Linked DNA regions of Homo sapiens: all the other regions are linked to region 2. Evidence: fine-mapped expression QTL. A gene starts in region 2. Each other region holds a variant in brackets. All regions are shown on one strand. Distances are from middle to middle.

The links.
Region 1: its variant is fine-mapped to the expression of GGH in monocytes (Quach 2016, PIP 0.95).
Region 3: its variant is fine-mapped to the expression of GGH in whole blood (INTERVAL, PIP above 0.99).

The regions. Positions count from the first base shown.
Region 1 is chr8:63,056,513-63,064,703 of GRCh38, forward strand. TTPA (alpha tocopherol transfer protein) reads right to left here. Exons shown (of 5, transcript NM_000370.3): 4 at 7,694-7,804; 5 at 2,976-4,913. The coding sequence ends at 4,740. Among named protein-coding and RNA genes, the nearest start is that of GGH, 22 kb to the left of the region's middle. The variant C/T (reference allele first, on the strand shown) is at 3,253.
Region 2 is chr8:63,035,447-63,043,637 of GRCh38, forward strand. It overlaps GGH (gamma-glutamyl hydrolase), which reads right to left and starts at 3,360. Exons shown (of 9, transcript NM_003878.3): 1 at 3,214-3,360; 2 at 210-324. The coding sequence starts at 3,322. RefSeq lists a silencer at 3,394-3,753.
Region 3 is chr8:62,994,290-63,002,480 of GRCh38, forward strand. It overlaps a transcript of NKAIN3 not described here. Among named protein-coding and RNA genes, the nearest start is that of GGH, 40 kb to the right of the region's middle. The variant A/T (reference allele first, on the strand shown) is at 3,468.

The DNA.
Region 1 (8,191 bases), 21 kb after region 2:
TATCTCACAGATTTTGGTATGTTGTGTTTCTATTTCCATTGGTTTCAAGAAATTTTTAAATATCCTTCTTAATTTCTTCATTAACCCATAGGTCATTCGGGAGGATATTGTTTAATTTCCAGGTATTTGTACAGTTTCCAAAGGTTTTTTTGTTACTGATTTCTAGTTTTGTTCCATTGTGGGCTGAAAAGAGATTTAGTATGATTTAAAAAAAAATTGTTCAGACTTGTTTTGTCACGTAACATATGGTCTATCCTGGAAAATGTTCTACATGCTGATGAGAAGAATATACATTCTACAGCTGTTGAATGACATGTTCTGTATATGTCTATTAAGACCATTTGCTCTAAAGTGCAGCTTAAATCCAATGTTTCTATGTTGATTTTTTGTCTAGATGATCAGTCTGATGCTATGAGTAAAGTGTTGAAGTCCCCAGCTATTATTATATTGGGGTCTATCTCTCCCTTTAAATCTCAAATAAATAACCCAATGATGCACCTCAAGGAACCAGAAAAGCAACAACAAATAAAACTTAAAATTAGTAGAAAGAAAGAAATAATAAAAATCAGAGCAGAAATAAATGAAATAGAGAACAAAAAAGTACAAAAGATCAATAAAACAAGAAGTTGGTTTTTTGAAAAGATAAACAAAAGTGACAAAACATTAGCTAGACTAAGAACAAAAGAGAAAACCCAAATAAACAAACTCAGAAATGAAAAAGAAGACATTACAACTCATGCCATAAAAATATAGGGCTATTTACTGTTTCTCAGACATGCCTTACTCTTTCTGATCTCTAAGTCTTTGCTCACACAATTTATTTTCTTTAAGTATCCTTCTTCTCCTCAGTTTTCATTGCTATCTTAAAGGCTTTGCTTCAGATAATACCTCCTTTAAGAACACATCCTCAATACCCCAAGTGGAAATTATCTTTCCTTCTGTTAAACTCTCAAAACACTTTATTGGAATCACTTTAATGGCCCTTACAATATACTGCACTTTAGCTAGCTATTTGGAGTATATTTTTCCCTCTCCTAGGTAGCATATGTTTAATTTTCCTAGTCAGTAGTACTTAATTCACTCTACAGTGTTATCAAAAGTAGATATTTAACAGATTAATATGATTGTCTCAGAAAGAGGTCAGTTGAGTGCTAGGTATGGGTGTGGGAGGAGGATGGTGTATGTCCTTGCTAACCAGAAAAGTCGTAGGATTGTACCGCTGCCAATCCTAATTTTATTGCTCTCATTTCTAGTTCCTCCACAGCATCTAGGTATGGCAAAATTCAATATATAAGGCCAGTAAAGAGTGTTTCAGACAATACCATCTGACTAATTGGCTGGAGTTCTTGGTTATATGTCTAACATGTTTTATGATCTACAGTCTTAATTTAGGTGATTGGCAAAGATAAAGATATTTGTAATAGGACTTCAGTGCTATTTCTGTAAGAAAAATCTAGTTTGACAAATGAAATCATGATCTAGGCTAATAGCATATTGTTTCGAAATTAAATGGCTCTATCTTGTACTTCATGCTCAATTTTGCTGAGAACCAAAAACTGCTCTAAAAAATGAAGTCTATTAAAGAAAATAAAATTATCTGATTAAGTGGCAAACTATGGCATTTTTTGCTTAAAACTTTTAACTTCTTGACTATCCATGGCTTAGTAATTAGTTTGTGGTCCCCTTTATGTACAGCGAAAGACATTAGAGAAATACGGTGTTGAACTAAGCAGCTGGAATACCAGCCTGTCATTAAACTTATGAAGAAAAAACTGACACTGGAGTGATGGACAAATAGATGTGCTAAGATTTTTTTTTCTGTAAGGAAAAGCAGTTTTTGAAAAAGAATGCCTCATATTTACATTTTAAAATTAAAAAATAACTTGTACACTATGGTTTATGTGAAAGATGTTTATTTTCTTTCAAACAATATTAAAACAAATAAATTACGTGCAGTTGAGTAACACAATGAGCACATAATACAGTTAACCTTTTAAAAGGCACTTCTGGCATAATCACTAAAGTAATATAGACAATTAGACAATTATTTGCTTTGACACTTTATTAATTTGACCATTCATTTCAATTTTCTTTTAATGTTCTTCAGTGAATTGTTTCATTTATAAACACTTCAAAGTTCCATCATAAAATATGCCTAGATTAACTGACTTATCTTAATTCTATTTACTATGGAACCTATCACCAAAAAAATCTAATTTAAAGGACATTTTAAAATGTTATCCTTTATTTGGGTACTAAACTAATCACTCCTCCACAGAGTCATAAGAAAGTGTTTGAAATAAACAAAAATAAATGAAGTGGAACTGGTGATTGATATAAATCTTCTAGAAACAAAAGTTGGGTAAGCCAGAGGTTTTTTGTTATTGACACTGTTTATTCTTTTTAAGTGATTTTGTTCTTTTATTATTTTTAATTATACAATTTTAAATAGTATGCTTTTATTTTAAAATACTTTAAAGTGTTTTTTAGAAAACAGGCAGGGTCCAGTTTTTTTTTTTTTTTTTTTTTTTTTTTTTGAGACGGAGTCTCGCTCTGTCACCCAGGCTGGAGTGCAGTGGCGGGATCTCGGCTCACTGCAAGCTCCGCCTCCCGGGTTCACGCCATTCTCCTGCCTCAGCCTCCCAAGTAGCTGGGACTACAGGCGCCCGCCACTACGCCCGGCTAATTTTTTTGTATTTTTAGTAGAGACGGGGTTTCACCGTTTTAGCCGGGATGGTCTCGATCTCCTGACCTCGTGATCCGCCCGCCTCGGCCTCCCAAAGTGCTGGGATTACAGGCGTGAGCCACCGCGCCCGGCCCAGGGTCCAGTTTTTTAATAAAAATTATAATGTTGTTAGCTTCCCAATACTAAGTCAAAATCAAAACACGTTCTCTAAAGAACAACCACAATTACTTTCAATTTTATCATAGATATATGTATAATCCTAAGTATCAGCTCACCTGATTAAACTAATTTTCTTATAAAGAAAAACACCCTTCACATATCCTTACATAAAGATACTATTAATGTATATGATTAATGTTGAAACCTAACTAGCTGAACAAATGTTCAACAGATTTTGGACCCCATATTCTACATTTTCAAGTTTATAACAAAATTAAGAAATTATAAAATACTAAGTATAAAACTTATGTCATAAATTGAGGGCTATGTTGAATTTGAAAGCTGAGATGATATCTTTCTTAATAAATGAAATATTATAAACTGCAGTAGAAACAGTACATCTTTAC[C/T]GGTTATTTATTTATTTATTTTTATTTTTATTTTTTAATTTTTTTTGAGAACACATGGACACAGGAAGGGGAACATCACACACCGGGGCCTATTTATTTATTTTTGAAATAGAGACAGGGTCTCCCTGTATTGCCCAGGCTGGTCTAGAACTCCTGCGCTCAAGCAATCATCCATCCAGCCTCGGCCTCCCAAAGTGCTGGGATTACAGGTGTGAGCTGCCACACCCAGTCTTTACCAGATGTTTTTTTAAGTTAATATAAATTGCAGGATTTGATTAAAATATTCTGATACAATAGTCAAACTCATATTATTTTATGCATAATCTGAAAAATACCAGATGTAATTGACAGTAATTTTTTAAAATGTAAACATTTCCTTTCCTTTGTGTAGTTACGTTATTGTTAACTAAAAACAGTCCATGTATAAGACAAGTAAGTATGATTCCATCCCTTTCCGTGTAGTCATAAGAATGACCATAAGCAAAAGTTAAAATTACATTCTTGATTTGTTTAAAAATGCAAAGCAGATATTGAGAAGCCATCAACTGTGCCTGACGTATTTTCTAAATTATTTTTGTTAATCAATTACATCAACATGATTTCACAGAGACCTAAAGATGCCACATAGAGTAGTATGGCATATAGACTCCTCAGCTGAAAGTTTCTATCACGGCCAGGCGCGATGGCTCACGACTGTAATCCCAGGACTCTGGGAGGCCGAAGCAGGCAAATTACTTGAGTTCAGGAGTTTGAGACCAGCTTGGCCAACGTGGCAAAACCCCATCTCTATATAAAATACAAAACTTAGCCAGGAGTGGTGGTGTGCACATGTAATCCTAGCAGAGGTTGCAGTGAGCTGAGATCTCACTACTGCACTCTAGCCTGGGCGACAGAGCAAGACTCTGTCTGAAAAAAAAAAAAAAAGTTTCTATCGTGTTAATATACTAAAATAAAATTTCCCTGAGATGAAATGTCTTGCTGGTCCACAGGAATAACCATAAAACTCTATTCAGATTTTAATTATAATGAATTATAATTTAATCTGACATCCACTTAAAACAAGTGTTAATTTTTTTATCATTAGCTGACTTGTGCTAGTATTTTTAAGCGGAATATTTCTAAATTTTTTTCTAAACCAATTTAATCAGAGAACTTGTTTAAAATATAACTTTCTAGAAACATACAAAGATGCACATGAGCAGCTACTTTAGCAATAACTTTCATGTTCTCTTCAAGTACAAAATCGCCGATTTTTATGCTCTTAAAATGTACTGACATTTAATTACTTCAAAAGTAGAGAAAAAAGCATTTAAAAAGTAAAAAATCTTTCCAAACACCTGTGTTGCTCATGTCAGAAGATTTCTACATTTTTAAAGTTCAGGCAAGCATTAGTTTAAAAGATTTGCTCCTTTTCTTTCATTCATTTAACCAGGTTGGATATCACTCATGTATTTTTAGTTAGGAAGCCATTCACATGACATAACTTCTCATTGAATGCTCTCAGAAATGCTGCTGAGATAATCTTCAGACTTCATTATAAAATTTGTCCATTCCTGACAAATGTCCTCCATGGAGAATTCTTCACCACCATATTCCAGAGGAAGAATGTCTGGGAAATGCTGAAGCAAGCTTTGTTTGTAGTTGTTCCCATGCATGTGAATCTGAAATAGCCAAAACACTTTAGAAGGAAACCGCATTAGATGCATTTCCAGTGGAAAATCAACCTCATAAAACAAGGTATTCTAATAACTTCTAAAATGGAGTGTATAAATAGATACCACATCCTTTATTCCTCTGGTTATGAATCTAATAATTTTACTTATGTTTAGGTTGTATTACTGTGGATCTAATAACCTTACTGTTTCTTGGATTTGCATTCTTATAACTGCATAAAATTTATAAAAAGTTATTTTCCTCTTTCATAAGTAAATTTTTAAAGATTAAATAAAGTTATTTTATAAATTCTATTCCCTTATGTGCAAGTGATTCTTACCAAACTAATACCTTGGGACTATTCTATACACGATAAAAATGTACTAGCTGGTACTAATTCATATTAAGTAGAAGCATATATCTGAGCACACAATTAAATCTATGAGAAACAATTTATATGGTACAGTCGATGGATACTGTTAGTTAGTATAAAGTTAAGAGACAGCCGGGTGCAGTGGCTCATGCCTGTAATCCCAACACTTTGAGAGGCCAAGGCAGGTGGATTACTTGAGCTCAGGAGTTCAACACCAGCCTGGGCAACATGGCTGGTACAAAAAAAATACAAAAATTAGCTGGGCGTGGTGGTGCAGGACTGTAGTCCCAGATACTTGGTGGGCTGAGGCAGGAGGATTGCTTGAGCCCAGGAGGTGGAGGTTGCAGTGAGCCAAGATCGTGCCACTGCACAAAGTGAGGCCCTGTCTAAAAAAAAAAAAAGAATTAAAAGAATTAAAAAGTCAAATTTTAAAAAAGTATTAAAAAACAATTATGATAGTTGAGAACCTTAACTTTTCAAATATTTTAAACTATAAAATTGATCATAGAATGCCCTGAAGTTAAGAGAAAGCCGTAGAAACTTGAACCAAAAGCATACCTGCTAAAATAAATAAATAACCTTTTTTCACTTTCTAGGGCAAAATGTTCCTCTATGTATTCAACAATCATTTAATAAGCATCTATTATGTGCTGGGATATGAGGTTTGATGGATGAAATGAGTTTCCTATACTCACTTAGGAAACTCACAAAGCCAATCTTTAATTTTTTCTGAAATATGTAAAATATTATCAGGTAATTGAGAAGAAATTCTATCTCCTCAGGAAGGGGCAAAATAAGAAAATGTATGGGGCATTGCCAAAAAGTTAAAAAGGAAAAAAGTGGCTGGATCAGAGTTTTTTTCTCCCTATTTTGGCAAGTCTGTTTCCCGTCAACTAACTTTCACTGACATCCTTCCCCTAACTTCTCAACTTTTTACTTTTGCTTTTTTCTCCATATTCTCCTATTTCTTAGGTTCAGTTTATTCTTGTTTTTGTTTTTATCTAAAATATTACTCAAAATAGAAATAGTTATTTTTAGATCTCTAAGAATTAAACAGAGGGAAGCCAGATATTATCAAGTTACACTGAAGAGAGAAAAAAATGAACAAACAAAATTGATTTGTATAAAAATACTAGAATGAAAAGTAGCTGAAAGTGGCCATTTTTGCTAAAGCAGGCAATTTAAGGGTGGTTCTTGAAGACAAACAGAAGCATCCACTGCATAACCTCTAAAGAAGCTCTAGGGTCATAACTTTCTGACCAGGTATAAGATGTTATATTTTCTTAATATGAAAGAACATCGTTTCTAAAATTCCAAATGTGCTATTACAGTTTATATTATCACTGCTGACATTTCAGTGATTTTTTAGATTTAAACTGTTAAAACCTTTACAAATTGTTTTGTGTTCAAGGCATTAGATGATGCCAATGTTTGTCTAAATAGATGCTCTAAAAATTCTTCTTTACAGATTAGTTTAGAATGGTTGCCATTCTTGAGAACGCAGACTCTATTTTCAACCTTTCAAAAAGTCTAAGATATATGAGATGCTTTTTCTGAGATAAGGCTCCATAGGCTAGGTAAAGAAGAAAAAATCCAGTATCTTTGCTCTAACTAGCATGACATTAAGTCATATACCTCAGTTACCGTGGTTCTCAGTTACACTGAAACCGTTAAGTAGGCTTCACTGTTTAAGAAAAATGTTTATTTTTATTTGCATTAATAATAAATTCATATGGTTACAAATCAAAACAAGATAAAAGATACACAGTGAGAGATCTTGCTCCCAAACCTATTCTCATCTACTGTAGTTCACACCTCTTCTCTTGTTCCCTATAGATATCCACTTATATTATTTTTTGTATATCCTTTTAATGTAAATTTATGAAATATATTCTTATTTCTCCCCTTTGTATACAAAAGGTAGCATGCCATAAACACTATTCCACATTTTGTTTATTTCAGTTTACAAAACATCCTGCAATCTCGTTGTTTTCTGTTGTGTAGATGTTTATTTAACCAATGCCCTAATGGTGAACACTTCCTGGTTTTCAGTCTTCTGCTGCTGTGACTCCTCTAGCATATGTAATTTTGTTTAGGTATAGGTAATTCAAGACAGTGATTTTGATGTCTTTGCCACACTGCCCTCTATAGGAATATACCATTAAGCATTCCAACCAGCAGTGTATGAAAAGCCCAGTTACCCCACAGTCTTACAACCAATATACTTGATTTTTATAAATTAAAAGTAAATTTTAATTTACTTTTTTTTAGTTGGCTTGTTAGATAAATATTCAAAATATTGGGCTAATGATATAGATGGGCAGGTACGAGGAAAGATGATAAAGCAATCCTTAAATTAAAAAGGGTTGGAATGTTTGGTGTAGAGGAACACAGACTTGAATATATTTTACTCACCCGTTCCTTAATTTTTTCAGTCAGGAATGGTTTGATCATGGAAAAGACAGCATGGAAAATTACTGGTTCATTTATCAAATGGATGCCACGAACTTTCAATGGAAATGAATCCTTTTGAAAATAAAAAAATCTTAATAACAAAACATAAATATTACAATCTGATACCTAATGTCAAGTTTCTTCTTTGAACACTTGCTAAGCTTATGGAAATATCTAAAGTGTGTGATTTTATCTTCAAAATTATTTATTCCATCAGCACAAAAGCCTGGCTTACAGTTCACTGTCACTAGATTAAGTAAAGATCTCTAAAAAGGTTTCTCCTTATAGATTTGGCAAAGTATTTTACAAAATATCTGCACACTTTCACCAGAAAATTCCTTTCCCATCACATATAGATGTTCTTTTAACGAACCAATGAGTCATTTGGAAATTTATATTTAACTTTTTCCCAAAAAATGTTTATTTTGAGAAAAAAAATCACAAATATTGAAAGACTAG
Region 2 (8,191 bases):
AGGAGTGCACTACTGCACCCAGCTAATTTTTGTATTTTTAGTAGAGACAGGGCTTCACCAGGTTGGCCTGGCTGGTCTCGAACTCCTGACCTCAGTAGTCCACCCGCCTTGGCCTCCCAAAGTGCTAGAATTACAGGCATGAGGCACCGCACCCGTACGCAGCAATTTTTTATACAGAGTAAAAAAAAAAAAAAAACACTGAATCATACCTTACTGGTACAACTCTCGCACCTGCAGACTCCAAGTACTTTACATAGGACGCAGCAATATAGTATCTTCCATAGTTTTTCATGACTTTATTACGGCATTTTTGCATTAATATTCCTAATAACAAAAAAAAGTTTAGTTTCAAGCAAATTCCTTTTCTTCTTGCTCAGAAACTGAAATATATCACAGCAAAAATATCATATTTTATTATTTCAATCCACAGAATTAAATAGGAAGTCTCTCCTCCAAGTCCACCCATAGCCTATGGGAAAGCAGCAGGGGAGGCTGATCTTACTTTCAAGTAGATCTATCTCTCACCTCATTAGGGAGGCCAAATAAGCCCCCAAAGAAGGCTTACAATAGCACTTGCAGCCTTCACACAACTGTAGACCTAGAATCCATCTAAAGAATATAGATCCTTAAATTTACAAGGCTGTCACTCCTTTCCCACACATACTCACAGACACACTGATTCCCTGACAACGAAGCAAAGGAGTGAAAACATCTTCCATCCACACCTCTCCAACATTACCTTAGCCCAAGCTATCAATATCTACCCTCTCCCCACCACACTATCATAATAGACTCTTAGAAGGTCTTGTTATATCTTTTCTTAAGAAACCCCCCCAAGCTCCAAGCAGCTCCCCATGTAGAAGCAAATCGGATCATATCACCATTCCTATTCCTACAGTCATTCAATATATACTGTTGAATCATACCTCATGCCAGGCAACAAACTAGCTGCTGGGGACACATGACTATGAGTGAACCAAACAAAAGCCCCTGCCCTGTGTGCATTAATTCGAGGGTGTAGCAGGGAGGGGAAAGAGGACAAACAATAAACAAGACAAAAAGGCATAATATATAGAGTGATGGCTGGTCGTAAGCACTAAGGAGAGAAAGACGGTGGGGAAGGAGAGCCCATCTATGTAGGAAAGGACAGTCTCTTCAACACGGTGGCCAGGCAAGTCCTCCCTGAGAAGGTAAAACATGACATTTGAGCCAGGACTTCAGAGAGGTGACAGAGTAAACCACATTCATATATCTGGGAAAAGAGCAATCCAGGACAAAGGAATAGCAAGTGCAAAGGCCAGGAGTCAGATTTGTGCCTGTCACGTTGCAAGGAATCCATATTATTAGAGCCAGGTGAGTGAAAGCAGAAAGCAATAGGAAAGGACATCAGGTAGCGATAGATCAGCAAGCAGGTGTCACCACTTTGTTTAACTACCTCAGTGGGTCCCTAAACTTTAATAAACTCTGTAAGACCCGTATGCTCTGCCCCACCCATCTCTCTGGCCTCCTTTTACCAGTGAAACCCAGCCCCAGCAGAGTATAGCAACCAGTATACATCAAAACACGTCTGTCGGGTGAGTACCTGTGCCTACTCCTATTCAGCACTTCAGCATTTGGAACACTTTCAGTGTCTCTGTAGGCCACCTGATAGGAAGAGCTGTTGTCTGTATTACTCACTTTTGTATTCCCAGCTTCTTACAATTGGCATTCATCAGGTATTCAGATTAACATGTCAAACGCCAAAATTTGTTCAGTAAAACTTTTTCTCCTTACTGGTAGGTAAGATCATCTTCACTAAGGAATAACAAAGTTTGGCTAGGGAACGAAGAACTAGGAGTGTCATAGGAAATGGAGTGGTACAGGGTACATGGGGTGAGGTACCACAAAGGAGACATGGGGCATCATGGGAGCACAAGGGTACCAGAAAGAGAAGTACATCAGAGTGAGTTCCACCAACATCTCCCCTTCCCCTGGGCCCACGCATATTCACTTTTCCCATCCCTGGGAAAAGAGCTCAAGCTGTTCTCCCTGTCCCTCAAAATATGACCAAAATTCCACCAATAATTTAAGGCCATCTCACAACTTTTGTGGCTTGTCATCTTTCAATCCTTTGCACTTCCCAGAGCAAGATTGTGTACATAGTCGGTACTCAGTTAACGATGTTGTGCTGATCTCAGTGACCAAAAGCAAAGTCCCTTTTTTAAATATTTGACGCAGGGCTACCCCTGATTCTAGGAAAGGGGAAGAATCCCCTCTGCTTTTTTTTCTCTTCTCTGGACACACAATATGCAACCTGTTACATTAATTACAGCTTGAGTTAATTCGTGGAGAATCAAATCACCATGTTAAACAGCTATGAAATAAGTTCCAAATATTAGTAAGCAACCCATTTGAAAACTGGGCACTACCTATATGAAAAAACATTCATCTACTTTCTGTTTAGTTACAGAATACAGTGATAATATTCATAGAAAAAAATAGTATGAAAGGCATAATCCTACAGCCAAAATAAAACTAATCTTAATGTCCACACACAAATTTCTTTGGGCAAATTTTAACCCCAGGATGATTTCTCCTAGGTAGCTTTCCTTGGGCCTGTCTCAAATGTGTGTTTTGGTAACACAGACTGATTTTACTACCTCTTTAAAACACAAATATGTTGGAAACGAAAAATTGTGGGCTGCATTTTAACACCAAATAGAACTCACATTAGGATATCAGCCACTGTTGTCCTCTGCTACTGAACATGACAAAATCCAAGTTATACCTTAATTTCTTGATTTTCTATTACAATGCACTGGTATTTTAAATACGCCATCAATACATTTTGATGAATGCAATGCATGTACAGAATTTGTAGATGTAAATGAGTAAAACTTCCCAACTATGTGCGAAAAGGAAATGTTTTATTTTAGTAGAAATTCCTAGCTGTGTACAAAAAAAGAAAATCCGCAGGATTCTTCATGGTGCACCCTCCTCCCTCCCACCTTTAAGAGTCATATGAGTCTAAAGGAATGAACGAGGTACCTCAACCAGGTACATTTCAGTACGACCTAAATGGTGCCCAGCCCGGGTTCCTCCTTGCACCAAAAGCGAAGCACATCTGGGGGTTTTTCCCGGCGGGACGCGCCAGCTGGAGCGCGGCGGCGGGAGGCGCCCAGCGCCAACACCCAGCTCCTCCCCGTCTGCTGCGGCCCCGCACAGCCTCCTTACCGATGATGGGCTTCTTGGCGGTGTCGCCGTGGGGTCTAGACAGCTCGAGGCTCGCCGCCCCGCAGAGTAGCAGGCCCAGCACGCACAGCAGGCAGCCCGGACTGGCCATGGCGCTCGCCGCCTCCCGCCGCCTTTCAAAAGCTCTGCGGGCGGGCGGGGGCTGCGGCAGGGACACCTCGCGGCAGCGCACTCGCGTGAGACTCGGGTGGGCGGTGCTCCGCAGCGTGGGCCTATGGGAAATGCAGTCCCGGCGCGCGCTAGGCGGCCGTGGGGCGGCGGTGGGAGGCTCTGGGAGTGCAGCCGGCGCTGCGCGCCCGCCCCATTGCTCTGTCCCCGGTCCGCGACCGCGACCGCGACCCCGACCCCCACGGGCCGCCTAAGCGGAGACTCTGGAAACGCCTGGGGCGGGTACCGGGTGGTCTCCGCGTCCTTCCCTTTCAACTGTTACGTCGATGTGGACTTCAGTCACCCGTACAAAGCTGGGCTGGCCAACCCAGGTCCTCGAGAGGGGAGGTTGGGTGTCCCCGGCCGAGTTTGGTAACCAGGCAGCGGGGAGGCTGGCAGGGGATTCTAGAAGGCGCCTGAGAACTGCGCGCCAACCGCACCGCCCCCTTGAAGGTCGGGGCCCTATCTCCGGGAATGGTGACAACGTTCGCTGTACGGACAGCCTGTGCCCCTGAATGTGAATGTCCACACTTGCTATTTGGGGGGTCGCGGCATCTGTAGGAAGTGAAGACGGGACGGCGATAGGAACACACGCACAGGCGCATCACTAGGGTCAGAACTGGGCCAACTCCGGGCGTCTACTTTGAAGCGGGCACGCCCAGGCCACGCCTGCAAACGGCGTCAGCTTCCTCTGATCAACCGCGGTCAGCGCCATCCACCGACCACCACTAAGCCTATCCACCGGGGCAGAAAAGATGACTGGTTCCTATTCGTTAAAACTGTTGATTGTTCCTAAATACATGGATATATAGCTTGTACTCAGTGAAAGTTTCCATCTATAAGGGCCAACTGAAATTCAGCATAAAACAAGAATATTTGAAAACCTGCTACATCAATGCTCAGTATTAAGGGTGAAAACGTAAATTGGACAGTCTTTTTCACAAGAGGTTTAAATTCAGTAAGGAAAAAAGGCAGAAAGCGTGACTCGTAGAGACAACAGGAACAATTTTAGCATGTTGCAAGAAGAGTAAATGCAGTGAATAGTCTGGTTTAACAAGAAAATAACGCTTCTGTAGAAGGGTGTGGTGAGAGGTAAGCAACAAAGGATGTGATGAAAGACATGAAAGGGCCGAGCTGGTTTTGAGCATGATTAAATAGACAAGTAGCCTTGTAAATATGAACTTGTGGTGCCAGAATAATTGACTATCCACATAGGAAAAATTTTTTACCCGGCGTTACACACAAAAATAAACTCGAGGTGAAGTGCATATGTAAATACGAAAGCAAAATATTATACTTTGATAAGAAAATATATAAATATATCTTCCTAACTTAGGCTGTTGGAAGAGTTTCATAAAACATTAAAAATAAAAATGTTAATTAAAAATTGACTATATAAGAAAATTAAAGTTAAAGCACAAACTTGGAAAATATAGTTATAAAATATAAAGTATTTCTAAAATATGCGAAGAAATAATAAGAAAAATGACACAATAGAAAAATGGAAAAAGAATGTGAAAAGCAAACCAAACTTTCTGTAGTCATCAGAAAAATGCAAGATAATATGTCACATCCATTAGACTGTGTAGAAAAACAGCCTGTTTCCTGGCAAGAGTGACACCATCTTGAAGCAAAACTATCCTGGGGACTGATGTTTGACCCACAGCATACCGAGGTGTTCTGCAGCAAAGGTCTTTAAACAATGCTCATAACATATATAACCCCTCATAAAGATGCTTATCTAACGTCCCCAGTGATCACAATAGTCTAAGAGCTAACTAGTTGCACTTGTCTTTACCCTAGAGGCTTGCTAAATAAAGCATACTTTCTGGAGGGCAAGTGCAGGGGTCGCTTCTGTTTGTCTCTACTAAGTATTTCTTTCTGAGAAATTCGATTGGTCAGCCTCTTTGGTCTCCCAGCTTCCTCCATCTTTGGAAGCAGGTTTCTGTAAATTGACAAAAATGTAAGCCTTTGATAATAAGTCAAGGATGTAGTAAAATGACAGTTCTCTGCATTTCTTGTGGAATTGTAATTATTATAACTATTTTTGAGAAAAATTAAGCAATATCTGGTAAAGGTGAAGATCTAAATGTTCTGTAACCCAGTACATTCTGGATATAAGTGTGTACCTAGATTAATGCGTGCTCATGTGAACAAAAAAAATATGTGTAAGTATGCTCTTTGGAGCATCTTTTTGTAATAGTAAAATATTAAATGTAAATGACCAATGTCATAAAGTTTTTCCCATGTGTTTTCTTCTAGTAATTTTACAGTTTCAGGTCTCATATTTAACTGCTTAATTCACTTTAGTTGATTTTTGTTCATGGTGAGAGATAAGGGTCTAATTTCCAGATTTTCCAACACTGTTTATTGAAGAAGATGCCCTTTCCCCATTGTGTGTTCTTGGCACCTTTGTCAAAAATCAATTGACAGTATATGTATTGGTTTATTTTTGGGCCTTCTATCCTAGTGCATTGGTCAATGCCCGTAATTTTATGCCAGTACCATGCTAGTTTGATTAAATTACTATAATTATAATATGTCTTGAAATCAGAGTATGATGGCTTCAACTTTGATTTTTTTTCTCAAGATTGTTTTAGGTATGTGGGGTCTTTTGTGGTTTCATACAAATTTAAGGATTTTTTTACATTTATGTGAAAAAAGTGACACTGGAATTTTGTAGAGATTACAATGAATCTGTATATTGCCGTAGGTCAGTCATATAGACATGTTCCCAATTTTAATTCTTCCAATCCATGAACATGAGATATCTTTCCATTTGCTTGTATTTTCTTATTTACTTGTATTTTTATGTGTTTTATAGTTTTCAGTGTACAGGCCTTTTACCTGCTCATTAAATTTACACCTAAGTATTTAATTTTTTGTTACTATTTTAAAGGGGATGGTCTTGTTAATTTCATTTTAATTTGTTATTACTATATAAAAATGCTGCTGACTTTTATATGTTGATTTTGTATTCTGTAACTTTACTGTTAATTTATCAGTTCTAATAGTTTTTTGGTGGATTCATATATAAGATCATGTCATAGAAAATAGGGATATTTTCACTTCTTCATTTCCTATTAGGCTTCAAATTTTTCCTCTTGCCTAATTGCTTTAGCTGGGACTTACGGTACTATATTGAAAAGAAGTGGTGAGAGTAGGCATACTTGTCTTGTCACTGATCTTAGAGGAAAAGCTTTCAGTGTTTTACTGTTGAGAATGATATTAGCTAAGGGTTTGTCATATGTAGCCTTTATTGTGTTGAGGTACATTCCCTCTATACCTATACCCAATTTGTTAAGAGTTTTTTTTGTTGTTGTTTTTGTTTTTTTTTTTTTGAGATGGAGTCTTGCTCAGTTTCCCAGGCTGGAGTGCAGTGGCGTGATCTCAGCTTACTGCAAGCTCCACCTCCCAGGTTCACGCCATTCTCCTGCCTCAGCCTCCAGAGTAGCTGGGACTACAGGCGCCCACCACTACACCAGGCTAATTTTTTTGTATTTTTAGTAGACAGGGTTTCACTGTGTTAGCCAGGATGGTCTCAATCTCCTGACCTCGCCATCTGCCCGTCTTGGCCTCCCAAAGTGCTGGGACTACAGGTGTGAGCCACCGCGCCTGGCCTTGTTAAGAGTTTTATTATAAAAGGATGTTGGGATTTTTCAAATGTTTTTTCTGCATGTATTGAAATCATTATATGATTTTTATCCTTGATTAATGTGGTATATCACATATTGATTTGTGTGTGTATATATGTCTATTATAGTAGATATAGGCAATGTATATTGTAATGTCTCCTCTTTCTTTTCTAATCTTGTTTGAGTAGGCTCTTGTTTTCCTAGTTAGTCTAGCTATGGGTTTGTCAACTTTATCTTTTCAAAAAACCAACTTAGTTTTGTTGATATTTTCTATTGTTTTTCTAGTCTCTATTTCATTTATTTCTGTGCTGATTTTTGTTATTTCCCCTCTTCTGCTATCATTGGGCTTAGTTTATACTTATTTTTCTAGTTTCTTGAGTGGTAATGTTAGATTATTTGTAACCTTTCTTTTTTTATATAGGTGTTCATTGCTATGAATTTCCCTCTTAGGATTGCTTTTGCTGTCTCCCATAAGTTTTGATACATTGTCTTACCATTTTCTTTTGTCTCATGGTAATTTTTTATTTTCTATTTGCTTTCTTCTTTAACCTATTGGTTGTTTAGGAGCATGTTGTTTCATTTCCACACATTTGTGTATTTTCCAAGATATCTCCTGTTACTGATTTCTGGTTTCATTCCATTGTGATCTCAAAAGATACTTGATATGATTTCAATTCTCTTAAATTTGTTAAGATTTGTTTTGTGCATTAACATATGGGCTATCCTGGAGAATGTTCTATGTGCACTTAAGAAGGATGTGTATTTTGTTGCTATTGGATACAGTGTTCTGTATATTTCTGTTTGGTCTATTTACTCTAAAGTGTAATGCAAGTCCATAGTTTCTTTATGGATTTTCTCTCTAGATGATCTGTCCATTACTGAAAATGGAATATGGAGAGCCCTACTGTAATATTATTAAATTATATTTTTTCCTTTAGATCATTTAGTAATTGCTTTATGTATTTAGGTGCTCTGATTTTAGGTGGGTGTATATTTACAATAGTTATGTCTTTGTGGTGATTTAACTTCTTTGTTATTATATAATAGCCTTCTTTTTCTCTTTTTATAGTATTTAACTTAAATCTATTTTGTCTGATATAAGTGTAGCTACCTCTGCTCTTTTCGTTTCTGTTTGCATGGAATATCTTTTCCATCCCTTCACTTTCAGTCTATGTGTG
Region 3 (8,191 bases), 41 kb before region 2:
AATGGAGTCTGTGTGCTGGAGTATTTCCAAGATAGGGTAAAGGGCAAAGCCACATGCAGAAGTAGGTGCAGTATGCCACCATGTTCGTGAAAAGTGTGAAAGGGATTGTATGATGATTTGTCTAAGTGTAGAATGTCTCAGGAATGATGTAAAAGAAATCAGTTGCACTGGTCATCTCTGGGAAAAAGGATTGAGTGGCTAGGCACCACAGATCAAGGAAGGAGACATTTTAGGCTTTCCTCATAAAACCTGTTTGGACACTTCAAGTTCATTCATTCATTCATTCATTCATTAAATGTTATGGTCTTTAACCAGCAGTGTCAAAGGCTACTGAGAGCAGAGTTTCAGCTCCTCATTTTAACTGGAACATTCCAGAGAAGGAGCATCTCCTTGAAGGGAATTTGACTAAGGCATTAACCGAGAGAAGAGAAATGTAACCTACATTTCCTCCATCTCCATCTGGAGAGTCCTTTCAGGTGTCATCTTAGGAAAATCTAGGTTTTCCCTTTACAAGGAAGGTGGCATTTTATTTCATGGAAAATCAGACTCTGCTTTCTTATAGTTTTTTCAGCTTGGCTCAAGCTCAGGAAAGTAAATAGCAAAAATAGGTGAACCATAAAATTAAGCCTACATCATTGGGGTGTTAACTAAGGCCATTAAATTTGTCATTTGGGATCTAAATATTGGAGTAGGACTTTGATGATACTCTGAAATTGTACCTAAAGTAGACTAATCCAGAATAATAATAGAGTAAACAGCATGATTGAAAAATTTGAAAAACTACTTAAGCTTTCCAATTGGTATTTACATTTGCACATTCCCATCCTTAATGACATAAAATTAAATAGCTCTACAGATGCTTAATGCATCAGGGCTCAGTGAATCTGGAGGAAAAGCAGATGGCTTATGTATATCTGAGAGCATTTTAATATTAAGCAAATAAACCCCAATTAGATGGGCGTGGCAGAAGCATATCCTGTTGCATGCTTAATGGTGAGAAGTGGATATTTCAAATGTCTGTCCTCTGTACTTTACAAGAGTTTATTCAAAATGGCTGCATGGTAAGGGCTGGGGAATTAAACAAGGCTAAGAAGCAAGAGAGTAGATGAATGAGAATCCACACAGTGGTATAGATGAATGCTACAGTAGAAGCTGCTCAGCTGGTGCCTGAGAGGGAAGGGAGGACCTTTGTTCACACTGCTCTGTGTCTGTTGTGCTGACCTGGGACTAGGGTTGTTGCCGAACTAAAAACAAAGAAAAGCTAAACTGATCTATATCATAAATGTCATAGAGATATGTGGTAGAAGGAAGATGGAGGAAATGGTAAACACAAGGGGGAAGAAGGAAAGGTAGGTTGGGAGTTTAGAGAGGTAGGAAGGAAAAAAGGCTAGATGACATAAGAAACTTTAAGAAGAGTGGACAATCAATTCAGAATTTATATGTAAATCAAAACATCAAGTTGTTCACCATAGATATATAAAATTTGTATTCAACTATACTTCCATAAAGCCAAAAATATTTAAAATATTAGAAACATTATAATAGTTTTCAAAAGAGAGGTACCCAAACAGCAGCATCAGCATCACCTGGGAGCTTGTTAGAAATGCAAATTCTCAAGCCTCACCTCAGACTGAATCAGAAACTCTTGGGTGGGCCCAAAAGTCTGTGAACAAGCTCTGCAGGTGATTCTTATGCACTCTCAAGACTGAGAACCACTGGTCCACACCTTCTATTTAACATGATAACTAGGTTGACCTATGTTGTAAATATTCCCATTGAACATAAAAGTGATGTAAAATTGCTAGAAGCTGTCTGTATTGGTCTTTTTTCACACTGCTAAAAAGATACTACCTGAAACTGGGTAATTTATAAAGGAAAGTGGTTGAATTAACTCATAGTTCTGCATGACTGGGGAGGCCTCAGAAAACTTACAATCATGACAGAAGGCGAAAGGGAATGAAGGCACGGCTTACATGGTGGCAGGAGAGAGACAGAGTGCGCAGGGGAAAGCTGCCCCTTTTAAAACCATCAGATCACATGAGAGCTCCCTCACTATCATGAGAACAGCATGGCGAAACCACCTCCATTATCCAATCACCTCCCATCGGGTCCCTCCCTCGACACTTGGGGATTACAATTCAAGAAGAGATTTAGGTGGGGACACAGCCAAACCATATCATTCTGCCCTGGCCCCTCCAAAATCTCCTGTCCTTTTCACATTTCACAACCAATCATGCCTTCCCAACAGTCCCCCAAAGTCTTAACTCATTCCAGCATTATCACAAAAGTCCAAGTCCAAAGTCTCATCTGAGACAAGGTATGTCCCTTCCACCTATGAGCCTGTAAAATCAGAAGCAAGTTAGTTATTTCCAAGATACAATGGGGGGTACAAGTATTGGGTAAATGTTCCTATTCCAAAATGGGAGAAATTGGCCAAAACAAAGAGGCCACAGACACCATGCAAGTCCAAAACCTGATGGGGCAGTCATTAAATCTTAAAGGTCCGTAATGATCTCCTTTGACTCCATGTCTCACACCCACGGTACGCTGATGCAAAGGGTGGGCTCCCATGGCCTTGGGCAGCTCCTCCTCTGTAGCTCTGCAGGGTATGGCCTCTGCGGCTGCTTTCACAGGCTGGTGTGGAGTGCCTGCAGCTTTTCCAGGCACACGGTGCAAGCTGTCGGTGGATCTACCATTCTAGCGTCTGGAGGATGGTGGCCCTCTTCTCACAGTTCCACTAGGTAGTGCCCCAGTGAGGACTCTGTGTGGGGGCTCCAGCGCCACACTTCCTTTCCACACTGCCTTAGCAGAGGTTCTCCCTGAGGCTGTCTTATGAAGACCAGCGTGGGAGGCAATAGAACTGTTTACTGAAAGAAATATTAAGAAAAAAATTCCTTCCCCCACCCCACCCAGCTTTGGAAAAAAGTTGCTTCTGGCACATTTCTAGAAATTAAGCTCCAAATAAAATTTGTAAATTGTAGATGGAAAGTGATAATAAAGACAGGCAGGTGATAATGGGAGTGTATTTGGATTAACTTCTGAAAAAACAAAAAACTAGAAATTTGAGAGGAGATTTTAAAACCATGGCAGTGAGTAAGAATGAAGAGGTGAACAGAAAAAAAAAATGTTGGGTTTGTTTTAATTAAAAAACTAAAAGGTCAATAATACACAAGGCACTTAAATAAAAGTGATAAAGAAAAACAAATTAAGAGGATTTGGAACTCATGATTCACTTGAGGGTCACCTTGGTAGTAGTGAGATGTAATGGAGTGAGAAGAGCCTGGGTTTTCAGAGTCAGTGTTCAGATCCACCAGCTGTAAATTATATCATTCTGGATAATTCACTTAACATTAGGGATTGACATGCTTTCATTTGTTCTTACTTTGCCCTATAGTGAGAGAAGTAAAGTGTTTAATTAGGGCTATTATTAGTTTTCAATTTACCAAATAAATGAGCTCTTTTCTTTA[A/T]AAAAAAAAAAAAAAGAGGAGGAGGAGGAACAATGTATGGTGAGTGTGTTATGAAATCTGAGCGTATTTTTGACAATGCAATAGCCCCCTCCTCCAGAACCTCATAAAAATAAAAACTTCAACTAAAGACTTGTATTACCCCTTAGGGCTTTTTGGAGTCAGATTTATGGGTTTTTCTGTGTATGGTACTGGGTTGACATGAGGTTTGAGTTGGAATCAAGAAAGCCTCATGTTATTTGGGTTGAATTATTAAAATTGAGACTATGAGCCCAGTACATTTTTTCCAATATATTTCATGTTTAGGGCCATTCACATCAGCACTCATTTGCTGTTTGTGCTCAGAGACTTTACATCCCCTTGTGTCTCCAAGTTCTTGTCATCTATTTTATGAAAGAGGCCATATGGACACTGTCTTCTATAATGGTGTCAAATATTAGTCAGAGGGTTAAGTTGTAAAATGAGTGCATAAAGCAAAAGCTAAGTGTAGTCATTTTTCTTTCTCTCTCTCTCTCTCTCTTTTTTTTTCCCCCACAGGGAGGGATGGAGTCTCACTGTGTCGCCCAGGCTGGAGTGCAGTGGCCCAATCTCGGCTTACTGAAACCTCCACCCCCTGGGTTCAAGTGATTCTCGTGCCTCAGCCTCCCAAGTAGCTGGGATTACAGGCATTCACCACCACACCAGCTAATTTTTGTATTTTTAGTAGAGACGGGGTTTCACCATGTTGGACAGGCTGGTCTTGAACTCCTGACCTCAAGTGATCCACCTGCCTCGGCCTCCCAAATTGCTGGGATTACAGGTGTGAGTCACCGCTCCTGGCTGCTTTTCATTTTTCTATCACTTGCACTATACAACTGCTGATCCCTCACCAGTCCTGTTGCTGGTAGAGGTTTGGCTGATATGCATGAATTCGTGATTTGGGAAGATTTTCTGTCATCCAGTTTTCTTGAGGATGATTGTCATGCATATTTTTTCCTTTCACTATGGTGGTTGGTCCATTTGTCTTTCAGTGATAACTTGAAAGATGTTTTAAAAACTACCACTGCATCACAATCCCACCACCTCAAACTGGATGAAATTTCCTGCTTGATAAACCAACTAAGACTAAAAACTAGCAGTTAGTGATATCAGAAGAGAATAAAAAGTGTGTCTTCCATTCAAACAGTGTAAGGTGATATCTCATTGTGATTTTAATTTGCATTTCCCTAATAATTAGTGATTTTGAGCAGTTTTTCATGAACCTGTTGGCCTTTTTAAATTTTTCTTTTGAGAAATGTCTGTGCAGGCCCTTTGCTCATTTTTTAATTGGGTTATTGCTTTTCTTGTTGACTTGTTTGGGTTCCTTATATATTTTGAATAGTAATCCCTTATCAGATGTATGGTGTGTTAGTCTGTTTTGTATTGTTATAAAGGAATACCCACGGCTGGGTAATTTATGAAGAAAAGGTAGTCAGTTTTTTGGCTCATGCTTCTGCAGGGTGTACAAGCAACATGGTGCCGGCACCTGCTCAGCTTTTGGAAAGGACTCAGGAAGCTTTTACTCATGATGGAAGGCAAAGCGGGAGGAGGCACATCACATAGCAAGAGTGGAAGCAAGAGAGACGTCATGCTCTTTTAAGCAATCAGCTCTCAGGTGAACTAATAGAGTGAGAACTCACTCATTTCTGTGGGGAGGGCATCAAGCTATTTATAATGGATCCATCCTCATGACACAAACACTGCTATCTCCCACCTCTAACACTGGAGATGACACTTGAACATGAGATTTGGAGGGGACAAATATCAAAACTATATCATATGGTTTGCAGATATTTTCTTCCATCCTTGAGTTATCTTTTCATTTTGTTAATTGTTTCCTTTGCTGTGCTGAAGCTTTGTTTAATGAAATCCCATTTGTCTATTTTTTGCTTTTGTTGCCTGTGCTTTTGGGAACCTATCTAAAAATTTATTGCCGGGAGCATTGTTGTGAAGCTTCCCCCTATATATTCTTTTAGTAGTTTTACAGTTTCAGCTCTGCTGTTTAAGTCTTCAATCAATTTTGAGATTATTTTTTAATATGATGTGAGATGGAGATCCAATTTTACTCTTCTGAATGTGGATATCTGATTTTCCCAGCACCATTTATTGAAGAGACTGCCCTTTCCCCATTGTATGTCTTTGGCACCTTTGTCAAAAATCAACTGACTATAAATGTGTGAGTTTATTTGTGGTGTTAGTCAGAATGTAGAGAAAAGGGACCCCTTATGTATTGCTGGTAGGACCACACATTAGTACAGCCATAATGGAAAATAGTGTGGAGGTGCCTCAAAAGACTAAAAATAGAACCACCACATAATCCAGCAATTCTGCTTCTTGATATATAGCCAAAAGAATTGAAATACATATGTGGAAAAGATAGCTGCACTCTCATGTTTACTGCAGCATTATTCACGATAACATGATACGGACTCAACCTAAATGTTCATCAATGAATGAATGGATACAGAAAATGTGGTATATATACACAATGGAATACTATTCAGCCTCTAAAACGAAGGAAATTCTGTCGTTTATGACAACATGAATGAAGCTGATGGACATGATGTTAAACGAAGTAAGCGAGGCACACAAAGACAAATACTGCATGGTCTCACTTATACGTTGAATCCGAAAGAAACCAAATTCATAAAAGTAGAGAATAGAATGGTGGTTACCAGGGGTGGGGAGGGAAAGTGAGAAAGGAAATGGGGAGTTACTAGTCAAAAGAAGCAAAATTTCAGTTAGGCAGGAGAAATAAGTTTTTCGTTGTTGTTGTTTCTTGGTTTTTGGTTTGTTTGTGTGTTTATTTATTTATTTTGAGATAGAGTCTCGCTTCCTCATCCAGGCTGGAGGGCAGTGGCGTGATCTCGACTCACTGCAATCTCTGCCTCCCAGATTCAAGCAATTCTCCCACCTCAGTCTCCCAAGTAGCTGGGACTACAGGTATGGGCCATCATACCTGGCTAATTTTTCTATTTTTAGTAGAAACGGGGTTTCGCCATGTTGCCCAGACTGGTTTTGAACTCCTGGATTCAAGATATCCGCCTGCCTCGGCCACCCAAAGTGCTAGCATTACAGGGGTGAGGAATAAGTTTTTGAGATCTATGGCACAGCAGGGTGACTATAGCCAATAATAGTGTGTGATATGTTTCAAAATTGCTAAGAGAGTAAATTTCAGACATCTCACTTAAAAAATGATAAGTAAATGAGGTAATGGATGTTACTTAACTGAATTTAATCATTCCACATTGTATACATACATCAAAAGATCACATCGTACTCCATAAATGTATACAATTATAATTTTACAATTAAAAATAATATTAATAATAAAAATATTTTAAGGAGCATGTCTTCCTAGTGCCAAAGTGTTTACAGAAGCAAAGAGGGACAACCACACCAAATGATGGATCAAGTTACACGGGGACTTGGGACATTGGATTCAGCCACCTGGAGGTCATTGGTAACCTTGACAAGAGTAATTTCTATAGAGCACAGGGGTGAAAACACCAAAGTCCTGTGGAATAGATTTGAGAGAGGATAGGAGGGGAGAAACGAGAGTCATCAAGTATAGATGACTCTTTCGAGAAGGTTTATTGTACAGGTATACAGCAAATTAAGGAGATAATGAGAGAATGTGCAGAGTCAACAGAGGACTTTTAAAGGTAGGAGGTACTATAGTATGTAAGTGTGATTACCGGAATGAGTCTGGAGAGACGTAAATATTGATGATGTAGGAGGAGGGGGCCATTTGCTTGTGTGATGCCCCTGGATAGTAGAAAAGGGAAAGGATCTGGTGCACAGTAGAGGAGGTGGTCTCAGATGACAATAAGTGATTGGCCAGAGCTTCAGGTAGGGAAGGGAGAGAATATGTGTACAGATGACAGTGGGGGAGCACTGAACAGTGGGGCTTGTTGGGGGTTCTCCTCTAATCCTTTTCAATATTTCTGAGCTAACAGAAGGAAATTCATTATCTTACAGTGAGGAGAGAGGAAAGGTGTCGGAGATTTGACAGGAAGGGTGAGAAGCAGTTACCAAGGAGAATGAAGAAGAAAACAGACTAGGAAAGTGTATTCAGGTGGTGCAGTAGCACTGAAGGCCTGCTTATGGTAGTGCCAAAACCAGCTCAGTCCTCTTCAAATGAGCACCAAATGGAAGAATTGGTTTGCATTTAGGGGCCATTTATACACAAAATACAGCATTTTATTTTTTATCTTTATAGCTTTTTCAATAGTTTTTTGCTGATTGTGCACAGTGGAGTTTGAGAAAATTGAGAAATTAAATGCACATCTGGTGGTATCCACTGACCTTCCCTTTTTACTGATATTTATTCACCTAAGGATTATGGTTCCAGACTCACATTCAGTGTGGCTCTCAATATTATCCTGCTGTCAGCAGCCTAAGTACGTAGATGAGTGGAAAGCATGTACATGAAGACTTAACCATGTGTACTTCTGGTAGGTGACACTTAAGTAGAACAGGCAAATATTAAAGAAAAAAAGACTTAAATTTCCTAGAAGCAGGTGACATTTCTTCCATTTGTTTCACAAAATTTCACAAGTGAGAAAAGTCATGAAAAACTGGTCTTTGATCTTTTTTACCTCTTGAAAATGATGCAACATTTCTTTCTACTTCACAAGGTGAATATTTTTTTGAATGTTTTAAATCTCAAAGTTCAAACAATGGCATCAAAGCGCCAGGCTGGAGCT